3 linked regions of the Homo sapiens genome follow. The protein of the gene in region 1 purifies or fractionates together with the protein of each later gene. This does not show direct contact. Each region holds a gene or a part of one and is shown on either strand. Other genes may lie near its edges. The genes, in order: EMC8, NCAPD3 and PRRC2C.

What was found.
Region 2: the proteins of EMC8 (region 1) and NCAPD3 purify together in Homo sapiens (co-immunoprecipitation; one large-scale study listed by IntAct). This does not show direct contact.
Region 3: the proteins of EMC8 (region 1) and PRRC2C purify together in Homo sapiens (affinity purification with mass spectrometry; one large-scale study listed by BioGRID and IntAct). This does not show direct contact.

What each region holds. Positions count from the first base shown.
Region 1 is NC_000016.10:85,789,545-85,793,044, forward strand, and holds part of EMC8 (ER membrane protein complex subunit 8), read right to left. Parts: intron 3,390-3,500; exon of another isoform or gene 2,753-3,389; coding exon of another isoform or gene 2,678-2,752; intron 1-2,677. UniProt on the Homo sapiens protein: Part of the endoplasmic reticulum membrane protein complex (EMC) that enables the energy-independent insertion into endoplasmic reticulum membranes of newly synthesized membrane proteins.
Region 2 is NC_000011.10:134,217,261-134,220,989, reverse strand, and holds part of NCAPD3 (condensin-2 complex subunit D3), read left to right. Parts: intron 1-263; coding exon 264-418; intron 419-498; exon of another isoform or gene 499-599; intron 600-3,729.
Region 3 is NC_000001.11:171,540,967-171,544,695, reverse strand, and holds part of PRRC2C (protein PRRC2C), read right to left. Parts: coding exon 2,467-3,729; intron 1-2,466. UniProt on the Homo sapiens protein: Required for efficient formation of stress granules.

The sequences.
Region 1 (3,500 bases):
ACTTTGGGAGGCTGAGGTGGGCGGATCACCTGAGGTCAAGAGTTCGAGACAAGCCTGGCCAATGTGGAGAAACCCCATCTCTACTAAAAATACAAAAATTAGCTGGGCGTGGTGGTGGGCGCTTGTCATCCCAGCTACTCGGGAGGCTGAGGCAGGAGAATCACTTGAACCCCAGAGGGGGAGGTTGCAGTGAGCCAAGATCATGCCACTGCACTCCAGCCTGGGTGACAAGAGTGAAACTCCGTCTCCGTCTCAAAAAAAAAAAAAAAAGTCTTTTATACTCCATCTCAGCATTCTAAGCACCGCATCATGAAATACCCCTCAGTTGGGGTGTAGGGTAAAGAGGTCCCAAGTTAGGAAGGGGCACGTGCACATGTCCTTAGTTCTCTCCGGCGTGCTTTGAAATGGAAGCAAGGTGGCAGACCTTTGAAGTTTTTGGGTTTCTTTTATGGTACCATGTTTCTCACCAGATGCAGCTTCCTGCAGGTCTAAGGCCATTATTCAAAACAACAAAAGCTCATCCTGTTTTGGCATAATGGAATTTGAATACACTGTAATAAAGTCTATTCTCAGTCTGCACAAGAGGAAACAAAATTGGTACCTTGATTTTTTTTTTTTTGTAGGGAATAAACTGGTTAAAAATGGATGTGTGTGTTTTTTAAACACAATCCTATTGCTCTTTTTCCTAAATTCTTGTTTGGGCCTCTGAGTCTCCTTCACGACCAAAAGCAGACAAGACAGTTACAGTCCAAGGGTCCCTGCCTTGCACAGGATTAGGATATTTCTGGCCTCCTAAGAGTTCACGAATTACCATATTGGGTCAAAACCAGGGCTCAGTGAACCAACTAGACATTCTGGTCATCCACCCAAAAGATCAGGATTATGTCTGTAAAATATCTATAATGGTGCTATCATTGTGACTTTGCTGAAAACAACTCCAAAACGACTCATATTTTGTTTCTATCACCTCTTAATGGAACAGATTCCAGAAGCTTTCTATTGCTGCTTAGAACAAACATCTCTATACACTATCAAAGGGGCTTGCTCTAAATTTGGTCAAGTTCCCTGATGAGCTGATCCTTGAGCACCGTGCTCCCAGCCTTCATGTGCCATCATGGGCCGGCCTCCTGAGTGTGTCCTCCCCTAAGGTGACCCACATCTCTGCCCCCCGGGTGTCCCTATCCCTGCTCTCCAGTGTAGCCTGCCCTTATTTTCACAGTCAGATTGGCCACTGTCTTAGTTTCCTATTGCCCTTGTGACAAGTTACACATACTTAGTGGCTTAAAACAACACTTTTTTTTTTTGAGAGTCTCGCTCCGTTGTCCGGGCTGGAGAGCAGTGGTGAGATCACAGTTCACTGCAGCCTTGAACTCCTGGGCTCAAGTGATCCTCCCACCTCAGCCTCCTGAGTAGCTGGGACTACAGGTGTGCGCCATCCTGTCTGGCTAATTTTTAAATTTTTTGTAGAGACAAAGGTTTCATCATGTTGCCCAGGCTGATCTTGGACTCCTGGGTTCAAGCAATCCTCCTGCCTTGGCCTCCCAAAGTGCTGAGATTACAGGCACAAGCCACCATGCCCAATTTTTTTTTTTTAAGGCAAGAAATAAATTTTATTGAAGGATTTTTCACCATCCATAGAGATTATCATATGATTGTTTTTCTTAGAATTTTTAATGCATACATTTTTTGGATTTTCTAACTTCAAATTCCCTAATTTCTTCCATTTCTGAAATAAACCGTACTTGATTAAAGTGCATGTTTTATTTTTTAATTTTTATTTAAGTTCTGGGATACATGTGCAGAATATGCAGGTTTGTTACATAGGTATCCATGTGTCATGCTGGTTTGCTGCACCTACCAACCCGTCACCTAGGTTTTAAGCCCCGCATGCATTAGCTATTTGTCCTGATGCTCTCCCTCCCCTCGCTCCCCGGCTCTGACAGGCGCTGGTGTGTGATGTTCCCCTCCCTGTGTCCATGTGTTCTCACTATTCAACTCCCACTTATGACAACATGCGGTGTTTGGTTTTCTGTTGCTGTGTTAGTTTGCTGAGGATGATGCCAGCCAAAATTTTTTATCTTACTGGTCAGAAGTCTATAATGGGTCAGCAGAGCTGTGCTTCTTCAGGATGCTCTAGAGGAGAATCCTTTTCCTTGCCTTTTCCAGCACCTAGAGGCTGCCCGCATTCCTTGGCTCATGGCCACATCACTCTGACCTCTGCTTCCATCATCCATCTCTTCCTCTCACTCTGACCTTCCTGCCTCCCCTTTACAAAGGTCTTTGTGATTACATGAGGCACACCCAGGTAATCCAGGATATTCTCTCCACCCTCAAGCCCTTAACTTAATCACATCTACAAATCCCTTTTGCTACATAAGGCCTGGGGATTAGGATGTGGACATATTTGGGGGGTTATTACTCAGCTGACCATACCATACAACATTTTCTAGGAAAAACCATAGGACATATTTTTTACTTAGCTACAGGCAACTTCCTGAAGACCCCCAGCAGCAGTCTCAGTTGGCTACTCCATCTCTTTCCTGGGCTGAAGCCACCTGGTTAGGACTCATAGCCCAGTAAACACATATGGTATCACCTTGTACCCACTCTCAGAGCACAGAAACCACCTGGTACAAAAGATGATTCCTATGACAAACACATGTATATCTCAACTTACATTTTGCCTGCTGAGGGACAAATTCCTGTAAGAAAACTCCAAGGGCCCAACCAAATTCCAGCAGAAAAATGTCATGACCTGGAACTTTAAGTAGAACCTCTTTGAAGAGGTTGCCCTTAAAGCGAACCAGGTCACAAAAGCTCTGGCCTGGCTTTAGAATTTAGAACTTTTGAATGACACACATGAGAATAACCAAGTTAGCTGTATGGATGGCTATGAGGGGTGCACACAGCCCGTTCACCAACTGAGGAATGGAGAACTCGAAGGGAGGAACGGAGACTCGGCCAAGCCTCAGCACTCACAGCGGCAGGGTGGATGAGTTCTAATAAGGGTAGTTTCCTGTGACAGTCCGGAATCTGGAACTAGGCATCAGGTGAGAGTGCCCTGGAGTGGAGTGGGCTGGGGGAAGAGGATGGGGCTTGCTGGTGGTGTAGGTGTGGGTGTGGCAGCCAGGTCTCCAGTGGCTGCAGGATCCTGCCCTCAGCCCAAATGGCTCCTGCATGAAAAGCTGCGGTGGATCTAAGTGGCAGCTAGGAGTCAAGGCAACTAGCTTCCTCCGAAGCGAGGCAAGACAAGGCACAGCCGAGAAGCCACTCAACCTCTGTTCCCAATGAATCCATTTCCATGTCCCTGCTTCGCTGTACGACACCCCACACCCTGATGTGCATCTTGTGAAAAATCAAGATGAAAATAAAAGGTCAGGAGAAAACTCTGTGGAGACTGTTGTCAATGTAGTCAAACTGACTCTGATATAGACACCTTCCGCATTCTGCACTTACTCATGCAATTTCATTTACTTTTTAGAGAGAAAGGACATTTTCAC
Region 2 (3,729 bases), on another chromosome or scaffold:
CAAAACTCTTGTATCTGAAAAGTATTTCCTCCTTTATATTTTTAGAAGATGATTAGCTTAATAGTCAGTGTCAGTTGTGATTTAAGATTCTCTTAACCTTTTCTGGTTTTCTTTTATTATGCTACACCTATGTTATTAAAACAAGTTAAATGTGAATCGTGACTAGTAAACTTTTCTCCTCTTGAACACACCTGGAATCTAAAGGTGACTAGTTTTTTTACTTGTTACAGAGTACTTACACATTTCATTGCATTTTCCCCTAGAATGGGTTGACACAGTGTGGGAACTGGATTTCACAGAGACTGAGCCTTTGGATCCCAGCATAGAAGCAGAGATCATAGAGACTGGATTGGCTGCATTCACAAAACTCTATGAAAGCCTTTTACCCTTTGCTACTGGAGAACATGGATCTATGGAGGTAAAAATATAAAAACAAACTAGCCAAAGTTTGGTGTTAGAAGTAGAAGATGAAAGTCATTATTATAATCTGAAGCTTAGCTTTCTTGGTGTACAGTTCACAGGGAGTACAATATGAGTAACATAAAGAATGTGGTTAATTTATTGGAATATCCTAAGAGCTTTCCTCCAAAAGCTTCAAGGTACTTGTCTGATTTTTTTTTTTTAAGACACGACTGTTTTTTACAATAGCAAATTAAAGGAAAAGTATAAGGCCGGGTGTGGTGTCTTACGTCTGTAATCCCAGCACTTTGAGAGGCTGAGGCTGGCCAGTTGCTTGAGCTCAGGAGTTTGAGACTAGCCTGGGCAACATGGCAAAACCCCATCTCAGAAGGAAAAAAAAAAAGGAAAAATATAAAGGCAAAAACAAGAAAACTAGACCAAGGAAAATGCAAATAACAATTCAGACATGCCTTAACCTTAACTTTAAGAAAATCTGCGACCAGGCATGGTGGCTCATGCCTGTAATCCCAGTACTTTGGGAGGCCGAGGTGGGTGGATCACGAAGTCAGGAGTTCAAGACCAGCCTGACCAAGATGGTGAAACCCCATCTCTACTAAAAATACAAAAATTAGCCGGTTGTGGTGGCGGGCTTCTGTAATCCCAGCTACTCGAGAGGCTGGGGCAGATAATTGCTTGAACCCAGGAGGCGGAGGTTACAGTGAGCCGAGATCACGCCACTGCACTCCAGCCTGGGCGACAGAGCAAGACTCTGTCTCACAAAAAAAGAAAATCTGATATTATTAAACTGAGGAATGACTAGTTGAATTAACAGGTTTGTCCAAACAGTTCCTGTAAATATTGAGTTCTATCCAATGCATAGAAATATAAATTATTATTAATATTTAGGTTGTTAGTTTTCAAAAAAAACCAAAGGGTTGGGAAACAGAACAAAAGCTAATTGGATATTAACATCTCTGAAACATTTAAATGAACAAAAAAAAATTCACTTCCAAGTTTCACATCACAAAATTAAATCATCTAATTAAACATTCCTTCAGCATAACACTAAGCACTGCCTTAAGTACCTGAGTTGACAGAGTGGGGATTACGATACAATCTCCCTAGGTTGAGGTCCTCCCCAGGGACCTCAGGGAGGAAGAGTGGACATTTGAACACTAGCCAAAGTAGGTCTAGCAGCCACATGCAGTTGCAGGGGGTGGAGAGTTCAGTGCCACTGTGCATTTGGGCGCCTGGAAATATTCTACGAACCACACTGTGAAAAATGCTCCAAGAGAGGTGCGGATTTGTTGCATAGGGTGTGAAAAAGGGAGCATGGTAGGGTTGGGAAAGTTCCAGAAAGAAAGTGGCCAGCAGCGAATCTTCACAGATGACTAGCAGAAGCTTGGGTTGTAAGGCAGTCCTAGTGAAGGAGCCACCCAATGGGAACACGCAGGAAGTGTCAAGAGGCATACAGAAAAAGTGTGGTGGAACGGGATGGTAAGGTAGAGTAAGGGTAGGTCACGGGTAGCTTTACGTGAGGTTCAGCAGTGGAGTTTGAACATGTTTGGTAGAGTGTGTATGAGGTTTTGTTCTAAGCGTCCTGCATGTATTAACTCATTTAATCCTCAAGCAGCCTGTGTGAAAGAGGTTACAGTGGGCAATAGATAGGTAACATGAATAGATCTGTTTTAAGCAGACGTTCTTGACAGTAGGTGGACTGAAGTGGGAAAAATTGTGTGCAGGGAGAGCCCTTGGGAGACTGTATTGGTGATCCAGGTGTTATGAGTAATAATGGCATGATCCGGAGTTACAATTTTGGGAACTGGAAAGGAAGACTAAAAACTAGGGACATTTTTGGAATTAGAATTAATAGGGCCTTGTGAACTAGGAAGCCCTTTTGAGATATCTTAAAAACATGGTGTGAAGTGCTAAACTGACTGGGCATAGGGAATTAGAAAAAGAAAGAAGTCAGTGATCCCCAGGGTTTCAAAACTAGGAAGATGATGATATTGTTAACCAAGGTGGGGAATAAGGGAAAAAGAGCAAGGTCAAATGGAGAAACAGTTCTGTTTAGACTTCTGAACTTGAGATTCTGTCAGGAGATCCTTGGGAAGTTTAACAGGTAGTAGAAATGTGAGACCAGGAGAGAGAAGAGAGTTCTTTAAATTGAGGTATGGGTTGAAGCACAGTGATGCATGAGATCACCGAGGGTGAGAAGCAGCCAGGACAGAAATGGAGAGCTGATTGGACGGGGTCTGCAGAGGAGCAGTCACATGTAGGGAGTGCAGGGTCACTGACGCCCAGACTAGACAGCAGCCATGGGATCACATGGGGCCAAGGTGACCCCATATGCAGAGCCCTGGTGAGCAGATGGTTTAGGGTGATCGATCACCCTCGTGTGTGAAGTGGAGGTGCAGGTGGCATTAGGAATGAGGATGTGACACTGTAAAGTTAGGAGATGATTTCTTCCCCCCCCCCCCTTTTTTTTTTTTGAGACCAGGGTCTTGCTCTGTCACCCAGGCTGGAATGCAGTGGCACAGTCAAAGCTTACTGCAGCCTCAACTTATTGGGCTCACATGAGCCTCCCACCTCACCCTCCTGAGTAGCTGGGACTACAGGTGTGTGCCACCACGCCCAGCTAATTTTTTATTTTTTGTGGAGACAAGGTCTTGCTTTGTTGCCCTGGCTGTTCTCAAACTCCTGGGCTCAAGCAGTCCTCCTGCCCTGGCCTCTCAAAGTGCTGGGATTACAGGCATGAGCCATTGTGCCCAGTGGAGATGATTTCTCCCGTAAGTTTTTTAGTTAAGGAAAGGAGAGTGCTCTGCTCACTTGAATTTTGTGGGCCTTTTTTTGTTACGATACTCAAGGATAAACCATATTTAGTTCCTGCTATGTTTAGGTTATTAAAATAACCCATTTCTTCTTCATGTGTTTAGTAGGAGAAGACATGGAATGAAGATAGAATTAATACAATTGTGGTTTCTTTTCTAGGGTTTATCTCCTTTACCTGGGCCATTTCCGAGATCTCTTTCATTTCCTGCTCCCATTGCCTGCAATCTGCAGAACATTTAAATAAAGGGCTCTGATTTCCTCAGTTAGTAATTATTGGTAAAGGAATTTGAGTTCCTTTTAATATAAATAGAGGGATAACTTTCCTGAATAATCACTAATATATGGTGTCCCAAAAGTCTTAGTGTAGTTTTAAGCTATAATTTCTGAAGTATATATGCTACAAACTTAACAAAAAATTCTTTTGAAAGTTTAATTATTTAAATATGTTATATACATATTTATCTTGGTAATTTTGAATAATATACCTTTAATTTTGAT
Region 3 (3,729 bases), on another chromosome or scaffold:
GTTATCTATCTATGTGGCACAAAAATCTTGCTACATAGTTGAGATTTACATGGCACAAAAATCTTATCAAAATTTTCCCTGAGTATTGTTACTTAAAATTCTAATAGTTTGGTTACGGGAAATAAACTATTCTGTTTATTTTGGTTATCCTGATTCTCTTGGAATTTTAAGGGAATGTTCAAATTCCAAGTAAAAATTTCCTTTTTCTAAATTATCTGGAACAGCAAACTAATGCTGTGATTTGAACATATCCCTCAAAAGTTCATGTGTTGGGCCACGTGCAGTGGCTCACACCTGTAATCCCAGCACTTTGGGAGGCCGAGGTGGGCAGATCACCTGAGGTCAGGAGTTCGAGACCAGCCTGGCAAACATGGCGAATCCCTGTCTCTTCTAAAAATACAAAAATTAGCCGGGCATGGTAGTGTACGCCTGTAATCCCAGCTACTAGAGAGGCTGAGCCAGGAGAAATGCTTGAACCCAGCGGGGTGGAGGTTGCAGTGAGCAGAGATTGCGCCACTGCACTCCAGCCTGGGTGACAGAGTGAGACTCCGTCCCTCACCCACGCCCTCAATAAAAAAAAAAAAGTTCATGTGTTGGAAACTTGGTCCCTAATGGCAATGCAGCAGTGGTGAGAGGTGAGAACTTTGGAAGGTGATTATGTCATGAGGGCTCTGCCCTTCTGAATGGATTGATTGATCCTTAACAGGTTAATGAATGGGTTATCAAGGGAGTTGGTTAGTTACCATGAACGGGTCTGTTATAAAAGCCAGTTGTGCCATCTCTTGTGAGCCCCCTCACCATGTGATAAGCATGCTGCCTTGGGACTCTGCAGAGTCTCTACCAACAAGAAGGCCCTCATGAGATGTCGCCCCCTCAACCTTCGACTTTGCAGCCAACAGATTTGCAAGAAATACATTTCTTTTCTTTATAAATTACCAGATCTCAGGTATTTAGTTATATCAACAGAAAATAGACAAATATACCTTATGGGTATAGTAATCTGAAGTGCTAAGTATGTAAAACTAAGGAACTCAGATTAATACCATACAGTCCAAATAAATTCTTAAATTCTTATCAGCTCAGGCTGCAAACCTGGCAATTGCTCTAAAAGCAGGGCACACATAATAATGATTACTTACTATATACCAGGTATTAAGTGCATCACAAGTATCATCTTAGTATCTTCACACATTAAGTGCTATTATTTTCTCCCCATTTTAGCGGTGAGGAAGCAAAGGGGAAGCAACTAGAAAGTACTAGAGCCGAGATTTGAACCTAGGCATTCTGAATCTTAACTGCTACGTTATAATGCTAACACTAAATAAATAAATCAATACTAGCTTACTATAACCAACTTTTTTTTTTTTTTTTTTGAGACGGAGTCTCGCTCTGTGGCCCAGGCTGGAATGCAGTGGCACAATCTCGGCTCATTGCAAGCTCCACTCCCAGTGGCGCCTGCCACCACACCTGGCTAATTTTTTGTATTTTTAGTAGAGGACGGGGTTTCACTGTGTTAGCCAGGATGGTCTCGATATCCTGACCTTGTGACCCGCCCAACTTGGCCTCCCAAAGTGCTGGGATTACAGGAGCCACCGCACCAGGCCCAACATCTGAATAGTTAAAAAAACAGGCCAAGCAACAGGTGCAGTGGCTCACACCTGTAATCTCAGCACTTTGGGAGGCCGAGGCGGGTGGATCACGAGGTCAGGATATCGAGACCATCCTGGCTAACACAGTGAAACCCCGTCTCTACTAAAAATACAAAAAATTAACCAGGCATGGTGGTGGGCACCTGTAGTCCCAGCTACTTGGGAGGCTGAGGCAGGAGAATGGCATGAACCCTGGAGGTGGAGCTTGCAGTGAGCCGAGATCACGCCACTGCACTCCAGCCTGGGTGACAAGGCGAGACTCCATCTCAACAACAACAACAAAAAACAGGCCAAGTTTAGCTTACTTGAGAAAAAATATTTTTTTAAAAAAATCCATTGCCATGGCAATTATGTTATTGGTGTCCTTGGTAGTAGAACAGGGATTTGTTTTCTGGGCCTCTCTCTAGAGTGACAAAGTATATGGTTATAACATTAATTTAAATCTCAGAGGACACCTGTGTAGCATTAGAGGTTTATTAGGAGAAACTGAGAAAGAAGGGAGGGCTACTCATCAGATAACTTACCAAATAAGGACACAGTACATGTCCCTCCTTAGATGTGAACATTTTCCCAAAGCTACAAGTTTCCAAGAGAACTCTTCTGGAAAATGTAACGTAGCAGGCAAAGACTCCTAAGACACCTTAACCTCTCTTCCTTAAGCACCCTTACACTTTGAGAACAGAGAATAAAGCATTTGGGAAGAACAATGTTTTTTGGTCCTTTATCTAGACTGGCTCTTTGCATAATTCAACCAAGAACTCTACTTTTAGCTTCTTTAAAGGTGCAAAAGCAACTATATTTAAAACAAAGTACTCACCCTCTCTTCCCACTTTTTGATGGTGGGCCACTTCTCCTTTCATTTCTAGGACCTGAGAAATTCCTTCCTGATTTGGGTGGACCATTGTTGCCACGTCGATTCTGACGATCTACTGGTCTCTGACTAGAAAAACTTCTCTTTGCAATTTCCCTCTTTGGAGGTAGAACATTCTCTCCAACCTTTACAACTGTTTGTGCATTCAAGTCAGCATTTTTTTTTTCATCCCTCTCTCGCCTCTCATTGAAATCACTGCTTTCAGAAGCTGTTTCCCATTCTTCATTTGCCTGATCTGAAGAGTTCTGATTAGATAAATCTGGTGTCTTATTCCCGGAAATATCCCCAAGAGTATTAACTGGTTCTTGAGCCACATTATTAACTGTGCCATTTGTGGGCACTGCTACCACCTCATTTGATTTTGAAGCAGCCTCCCTCTCTCTTAGCCGTCTAAATCGAGGTGGCTTGTCTTGCCTTGGTGGTCGAGTAGGACGCTGCCTTCGAGGCCTTTCTCTAGCTGGGTCAAATTTTCGCTCAAATTTTGGAGGTCGTTTATCTGCTGCTATAGGAATAAACTGCTCATGTCTTCTTGGCGGCTCTCCATCTTCTGGTTTAGGAACTTCTGACTGCCTTGGGTTCCACTGATTGTCCCGATAAGCTGGTCTTCGTAAAGTGGAAGGGCGTGATGGACGGCCTCCAGGATCCCTTCCACCACGCCTGAATGTTCCCCCTCTGCCTCTCCTTGTAGGCTCTCCTTTAGGAAGAAAGCCTGGTTTAGCTTTATCGTCATCCCTTACATAAGGCTTTTCTAGCAGTCTATTATCTATTCGAACATGATTATCAGGCTTGAAAGAAGAATGAGGCTTTACAGGTTTTTTGTTTTCAGGCCGTTCCTCTCTTTTGGGAAGTTTGCCTTTACTTAAACTGTCCTTGTCACTTGCACTTTCATGAATTTCACTGTCTGTGTCAGTCTCTGAACCCCGCTGTCGTCTTCTTTTGGGGACAACTTCAAAATCAGAGCTCTCACTCCGTGTTTCACTTTCTTCTCGCTGTCTGAGAGGCCCTGAGGGTATATGCTCTGCTCTTGGCTTATTGTCTCTATACTGAGGATAATCTCGAGTGTGTCCCCTACCACCCCTGCCACGCCCTCCATAAGAACCTCTATAGCTTCGACCTCTGGAGTAATATTCACCTCGGCCTCGACCTCTGTATCCTTGATCTGGAAACCAATCTCTCTCTCTAGCTTCTTTCCAATAGGTCCTGGGAGGC